2 linked regions of the Homo sapiens genome follow. Changing the gene in region 2 together with the main gene of any one other region gives a genetic interaction. Each region holds a gene or a part of one and is shown on either strand. Other genes may lie near its edges. The genes, in order: TCOF1 and POLR2B.

The links.
Region 1: changes in POLR2B (region 2) and TCOF1 together harm fitness more than expected from each alone (negative genetic interaction), as found in Homo sapiens cells (one large-scale study listed by BioGRID).

Annotation. Positions count from the first base shown.
Region 1 is NC_000005.10:150,371,042-150,374,854, reverse strand, and holds part of TCOF1 (treacle protein), read right to left. Parts: intron 2,850-3,813; coding exon 2,619-2,849; intron 682-2,618; coding exon 469-681; intron 239-468; coding exon 44-238; intron 1-43.
Region 2 is NC_000004.12:57,020,230-57,024,042, reverse strand, and holds part of POLR2B (DNA-directed RNA polymerase II subunit RPB2), read right to left. Parts: intron 3,145-3,813; coding exon 3,048-3,144; intron 1,892-3,047; coding exon 1,797-1,891; intron 714-1,796; coding exon 463-713; intron 382-462; coding exon 292-381; intron 39-291; coding exon 1-38. UniProt on the Homo sapiens protein: Catalytic core component of RNA polymerase II (Pol II), a DNA-dependent RNA polymerase which synthesizes mRNA precursors and many functional non-coding RNAs using the four ribonucleoside triphosphates as substrates.

The sequences.
Region 1 (3,813 bases), on a different chromosome or scaffold from region 2:
GTTTAGGCATGGGGCTACTCTCCACCCCTCCCCTCTGCCTCACCTGAGCAGGCGCCTCCTCCTCACTGTCCGATTCCTCGCTGCTGCTCTGCGAGTCCTCCTCCCGCTTCCCCGCCTGGGCCTTGGCAACTGCAGGCCCTGTCTTCCCAGGGGGCGCTGGGGCAGCTCCTTTCCTGGGGGACTCCTTGGCAGGGGCTGAGGCAGCTCCGACCTGAGAGGTTTTTCCTGAGGCCTTCGCCTGGAGAAACAAGACAAGGGGAGACAGCCCAGAGGATGGACGTGTGAGGAGACACAGGACACCACGTACAGAAGACCAGATAGGGCAAATGATGCCACACAGTGAGAGGGGAGTAAGGGGCTGGGGTCTGAGGCACGCCCGGGGCTCTGGCCCAGAGTGGGAGAACAAGTCCTGAGAAGGCCTTCTGGGGACGGGCCTGGCTGCATGGAGTCTCCCTCCTCAGGCCTCACCTGAAGCAGGGCCTTGGCAGCTGGCGTCTCCTCCTCACTGTCAGATGACTCCTCGCTGCTGCTCTCTGAGTCCTCCTCTGGCTTCCCTGCCTTGGTCTGGGAGGCTACAGCCCCTGCCTTCCCAGGGGGTGCTGGGGTAGCCCCTTTCCCAGGGGTCCCCTTGGCAGGGGCTGAGGCAGCTCTGACCTGGAGAATTTTTTCAGAGGCCTTTACCTGGTGAAAAAGAAAGGGCAGCTTGCTCTCCTGCTTGTGAAAACTCTCTGGTGATGCCTTTAGGATAAAGTCCAGAGGCCTTAATGAGGCTCCTAAGACCTCCCCTGCTTCCCTCCCCACTCCCCACCTTGACTGATACTTTGGCCACACTGGCCTCCTGGTTTCTCAAAAATCGATCAGCTTCACACACTCTCACTCCTGGAGCCTCCATGCCCCCTGTTCCATTTCACTTAGCCACTGCCTCCTCTGTCTCTGGCTCCCTAAGAGACACCACTTCCTTAACATGGTTCCCCCTGGTGCCCCAGCACACTGGGTAGTTAGAGCCTGTCCTCTGCTGGGCTCCCACTGGCCAGAGAGCTCTGGAGGCACAGGCACTGGCTTATCGGGAGCATCATCAGACTGGGCTGTGGGGAGGGGGTGTGCAAAGGCCCAGGGAAGGGAAGGAATGAAGAGGCAGTCTGAAAGTGGGGAAGGGACTGAGGGAGGCCCTCACTGGACTTTCTGCACATGGACAGCAGCAGGACCCCTGGAAGCCCACCCTCAGCCTCATGGGGCAAGGTTTGCACACCTGGCCCCCTCTTCACTAACTCCTCGGTGGGGCTCTGCACTGTCTTGGGGCTTTGGCAGGGTGGCTGCAGGCCCTGTCTTCCCTGGAAGGCCCTGGGTGTTCAGCCCTGGGCCAACAACCCTAGAAAACAGCAGCTCTGATCTTCTAAGAAGCTTCTCATGCAGAAAGTGCAGGCTGCTCCACACAGGTCTTGCTTGGCTAGCTCCTTTTTAAATTTTTGAGCCAACATGGAGAAAGCAGATTTTACATAAAAGTTCACATTTATGGCCAGGTGCGGTGGCTCATATCTGTAATCACGGCACTTTGGGAGGCCAAGGTGGGAGGACTGCTTGAGTCCACAGCTTGTGAAACACAGTGAAACCCTGTCTATACACACACACACACACACACACAAGCTGGGTGTGGTGGTGTGTGCCTGTATTCCTAGCTACTCAGGAGTGAGGCTGCAGTGAGCTATGATTGCCGCTACTGCACTCCAGCTTGGGCAACAGAGCAAGACTCTGTCTCAAAAAAAAAATTCACATTTGTGTTCCTTCTCAAAGTGGATGCCCATCCAACACTGTGTAGCCCCCAGACACTGCAAAATAGACAGCCGAGGCGTAGAAGTTCCCTGTAGATGGGGTGGGAACAACAATTTGTCACAATTCGTAGTCCTACTTCTACCTCAGGGCCTTGACACTTGCTGAGCCCCTGCCTGGAATGACCTTCCTAAGAGTGCTTCCTCCTTCTGGTCTTTACTGAGACGCCTTCTCCCAAGGCCAGCCCAGAGCACTCTGCTTCAAGTTGCCATTCCTATGTCCCCCACTTCCTCTTTACCATTTACCAGCAGCTAACGCAGGGGATCTGCTTATCTACTGCATGCCCCCGCCTTGTCCTGCCCCAGGCCTGGGGCTGGGTGGGTGACCCTCACTCTTCCTCCTTCCTGCTCTGACTTCCATTGCTTTCCAGCCCCCCTGTCTTGCCCTTGGGATACACCCAGGGCCTTGGGGCTGCAGCCCTGCCCACTCCCAGCAGATGGGGAAGGGAACTGGATTCCCTTTAGCTAACGTAGTGTTTGCCTGCTCAGGGTCTGGTTTGTCCTGAGAAGTCAGAGGATTAGGCAATCAAAACTTCTCAAGTCCCTCACAGCAGGACTGGCTGGGACGAGGACAGCGGCCCATTTACTAGGCAGAGAAACTGAGGTAAAGTTGGTCACAGACAAAGTGGAGTGCAAGACTCCCCTGTGGGAAGCAGGCTGTTCTTGCTCTTCAACTTCACACCATAGTCCTCCCTCTCCCCAACTCCAGTGGCAGAGGTGCTCATGGCAGAGTGCTCAGGCTGCTGGGGGACCCGCAGGTCCTCCAAGGGGCAGCCCTCCTCCAGGCCTCACCTGGCTTCGTGTCCCTGCAGGGGCCTCCTCCTCACTTTCAGATCCCTCCTCACTACTCTCTGACTCCTCTTCTGGCTTCTTGGCCCTCTTGGCTGGGGGCAGGGCCCCTCCTTTGACCTGGGGTGTCACATCCCCCACCTTCCCAGGGGCTGGGGCCGCCTTTCTTGCTGGAGACTCCTTAGTAGAAACTGATGAGGCTTTGACCTGGGCTGGTTTTACTGAGGGTTTCCCCTGGAACAAGAGGATGGAATTAGAAAATGAATAATAATTACTGTTTCCCCCTAAGGTTCTGTATTAGGGGCTTCAGCAGTTGATAAAGCTCTTTCCTAATGTCACTGGATTTTTAAGCAACTCCCTGAGACGGCTATTAGCTTTAGATCCATTTTCCAGAAAAGTACACAAGGCTTAAAGAGGTAAAATCACTCATGATCAATATGAAGGGACAGAGCCCCACTGGAACCCTGGACTGTCTGACTTTGGAACAGATCTCAAAACCATTACGTTCATCTCCCACCTGGCACACACCGGGCTTGGCCTGAGAGAAGGGCTTGCATCTCAATCAGGAGAGCGCATCCTGTCTGCCCCTTAAACTCAAGTATCTGATCACAGCAGCCCTCCTGAGGGCCAGGAGTTCAGGATGTGAACACCACCTCTGCCACTGGCTTGCCACACCTTGGGCAAATTCCTTCCCTCTGTGAGCTCTTTCCTACACTTCCACAATTCAGACATTTCCCAGGCAGTCAGTGCCCTACTTCTACCTCTGAGATCCATCAGACCCCTTGCGGCCCTGGGTTTCTGGGGCGTCTGCTACTGGAGCTCTGCACAGCCTCAGCCCATTGAGGTTGTGTGTTTATGGAGGGCTGGGAGTGGTCTTCTTCCCTTTGGCAAGGCCTGGGGTGACAGAAGCCAGGGATGTCCTTACAGCTGGTGGTATCTAGGGCGCAAGGGTGAGGACGGAAGGTGGAGGGCAGCCCTTGGTAAGGCCTGGGGTAGATGGGGGTGAGCTTTCAACCTTCACAGGGTTACTGGGCCAGGCAGCACAGTAAAGTGAGAAGTTCCCTGGGCACCAGATCAGTTCATCCCTGACTTGTGCTGGTTTTCCCTTGAAAACATCTTTCCAACTGTGGACACCTTGGTCTCCCAGCCCCCAGCCTCTTATGCCAGTATCAGTATTACTCCAATAGTCTCCTACATG
Region 2 (3,813 bases):
ATATCAGGGGTGATACCTTCACAGGTGAAAGGCATATCCTACAAAGAAAAATTTTAAAAGGGACTCAAAGATACATATACTAAACTAGAACTGACATTTCAGTTCTCCCAACTGAATTACTGTATGTCCCAAATTCTGTTTAAACATGGTATGTTCATATACTTATTCAACAATAAAATCAAAAAGTTCAACCTGTATCATCTTTGAGCTCTTAAGTTAAAGCAAATTTTGATTAAAAAAAAAATATTTAACAAAACTGGTTTGGGCATGAGGGAGATCAAAGATACCTACCTCTTGTCTATACTGAATACCACAAGTACCCTTTTGACCATGTCGACTAGCAAATTTGTCTCCAATCTGTGGAATCCTAACAGAGCGTACCTAAATTCATATAAAAATAAGTTAGTTAAGTGGATTTGGTTTACTTTCTAAAACTAGCTACATGAACAAAGTTGTACTCACCCTTATTTTACAAAATTTATATCCTTCCTGATTGAGAGTTACCATAACCTGATCCACAATGCCCGTCTCGCTAGTTCTGAGAAAAGTGCTACAGTCTCTCTTGGTATAGCGTCTATTGGTGCTCTCCAATTCATCTTCATTTTCAGGCAAGGTGACTGTTTTGCCTATAATAACATCATCTCCTGATACACGAACCCCTGGAGCTATCAAACCATCATCATCCAGCTTGTCGTAAATGGCATGCCTCATGCCTGTGAGGAAATAGACACGGAATGTCACATAATCCCCAACAAAGATTAAAAACCACATACATGAATCAGTTCCAAGTCAGAGAGAAGGCCACAGGAGTCTCTATACCATGAATCACACCCTTATTCCAAATATTACAAACTATTCTGAACTCTAATACTACAGCCCACACAGAAAACAAAAAAAAAAGTCTATGAAGGAAAAGAACATTGGAATCAGCACTGGGAAAGCAGATTCTTCCATGACAGACATTTATCGAGTGACTTTGGATATGTTTTTTGTCATCTTCTGATTTCTATATTACAAGAGAAAGAATATCTCTGCCATCAGTGGGTACAGGAGAAAAATTTTTTTAAATTAAAAAGAGAGTATCTATGGATGCCCTCTGTACACATCCTCCCACAGAAATTGTGGATTTCATCTTAACTCAATCTTAACTCCACTGGACATCAATTCACTACTACACAGAGCCACCCAATGGAAGGGGAGTAACAGGAAGATGGCAAAGGAAACAAAATACATTTTACTTCATGCAATGCTATTCAGAGTCAACACTGTAGCAGAGATATTGCATTTCCCTGGAACATCCCATCCATCCCACTGCATAAGCAGGTTTTAAGTGTCTGTCAAAATAAATAACTAGAAAGTAAGTTTGAGTTTTCTAGAAGAAACAACAAATGCTAGGTATCCTCTTCTCACTGGTTATTTTTTAAATGTTTACAAACAATGTGGCTGAACAAATATTATGATCACACCATAATTTAGAAAGGAAGGGGGACAGGTGTGAAGTGTGTCCCCAGAAATTGCATGACCTCTCTGATTTCCTAAACTCCCTCCTCAATGCAGGACCTACCAGGAAGGAAGGTCTATAGCAAGCTCACTCCTAGGTGCAAAGACTTTTATCAAATACACATGTTTTCTTAGATGTGAACTCTAAGAATAACATGAAAACACACTTTCATTGCACAAAAAAAGGGAGAGGAGGACAGGGGCAGGCACAGGGTGACACAACCCATCAAAATCACTTAGGAAAACCACAGTAAGTTAACTTTGGATTCCATCATTTAAATGTTAGTGTCACTTACCCTGGCATGTTTCACGTGTAGGCTTCTCAAAAACTTCTTCTTGATCAAATCCTTTTTTAGACTCCTGTTCTTTGTATGAGCGATAGAAAACAGACCTAAAAACACATGGTTCTAAAGGTAAAGTCTATTTTCTTTTAACAAAAGGGCTGAGACTATACCAACAATTTCTCATTTACTTGAAATTTGGGAGACAATTTAAACTACGAATCTGGGACAAGAGTAACTGCATTAAGGATCTGAGTTAAACTCTAAATGTTATCACATGAGTTATACATATGTAGCATCTGACCCATAACCTTAACCACCTAGTATTATATGTCAAAATGGAAGAGACCCAGGGGTCAATGAATCCAACCTCCGACACATTTAAGAATCCATTACATAATAACCCTGAAAGATGGTCACCTAGGTTCTACTCAAACACTTCCAGTGAGAAGTTTTAACATTGGCTGAGCATGGTGGCTCACGCCTGTAATCCTAGCACTTTGGGAAGCCGAGATGGGTGGATCAGCTGAAGTCAGGAGTTTGAGACAGCCTGGCCAACATGGTGAAACCCCGTCTCTACTAAAAATACCAAACAACAACAAAAAAAAACTCTGGCATGGTGGTGCGTGCCTGTAATCCCAGGTACTTGGGAAGCTGAGGTAGGAGAATCTCTTGAAACCTGGGAGGCAGAGATTGCAAGTGAGCCAAGATTGCACCACTGCATTCCAGTCTTGGCAACAGAAAGACTCTGTCTCAAAAAAAAAAAAAAAAAAAAAGTTTTTACATTAAGCCATAGTATCTGTCCTCTGAGTTCTAGTGCTACCCTTTGAAACTACACAGACAAAGGAAAATCCATCCCCTCTACTAAATTCCCAGTTTTTAAAACAATCTTTATATGCCTTGAATTTGAGGTCTGTTTGTCGACAATCAAACTGAAACATAATGGAAAAAAAGAGCGAAAAGAAAACACACTATAATTTTAACAATAGTTATCTATGGATTCTAAGTTATTTTTATTTCTTCTTTGGACATTTCTATATTATCTAAATGCAACTGTATATTTCCTTACCAAAAGAAAGGCTCAAAATACTAGCATTTGAAAATCCTGAGAGATACAAGTAGTATCTTCAGCTGTTTGTGACCATCAACCAGTCCTTCCACTTTCTGGAGTGCGGCGTAGTTAAACTGTATTTTAAGAACTTTTTTTGCATAAAAAATTAGTGTTTCCACTGTATCTGTGTTTTGACAAATTTACAAAATACTAACCTGAAGAAGCCGCGGTCTACAGCTGAACGATTCATGATAACAGAGTCTTCCTGATTATATCCAGTGTATGATGCAATGGCCACAATTGAGTTGATGCCTGCAGTGAATTTAAGAGCATACATTAAAACATCACCTGGAAAACAGAAAAACTGCCCTTTCTTTAAATCAACTTTAATTACATCATATTTGCCATAAATGCTTGGGTGTTTGTTATCATGGTAACTGCCAAAGTCTATTCCTCCTGGAATAGCAATCTGTGAGGCAACTACTCTGATGGCTAAATATCTCCCACAAGCAAATCCTAGGACTAGTCACTCCCAATGTATCCATTCTTATAGTAAGTGATTACACATGAGTCACCTCCTACTTAGGAAGTGCCTCCCCAAACCAAGTTTCCTGATCCTCACAGCAACTCTGTGCCATAAACAAGATAAGCATTATTATTCTCATGAATCAGAGGAGTGAATTAATAATCTACCCATGATCCCAAAATTAATAAGCAATAGACTCAAGCCCCAGCTTTTAGGTTTGAAACTGATACTACCCCATTCCCCTCTCCTTCTGCCACCAAGAAAATATCATATCTTTCCCACCACAATGAAATTCTTAGTTGCTGCTGCCAAAACACTTTGTTTGATGAGCCCATAAAATAACTTGATATTTAGGTCGGGCATGGTGGCTCACGCCTGTAATCCCAGCACTTTGGGAGGCCGAGGCAGGTGGATCACAAGGTCAAGCGATTGAGACCATCCTGGCCAACATGGTG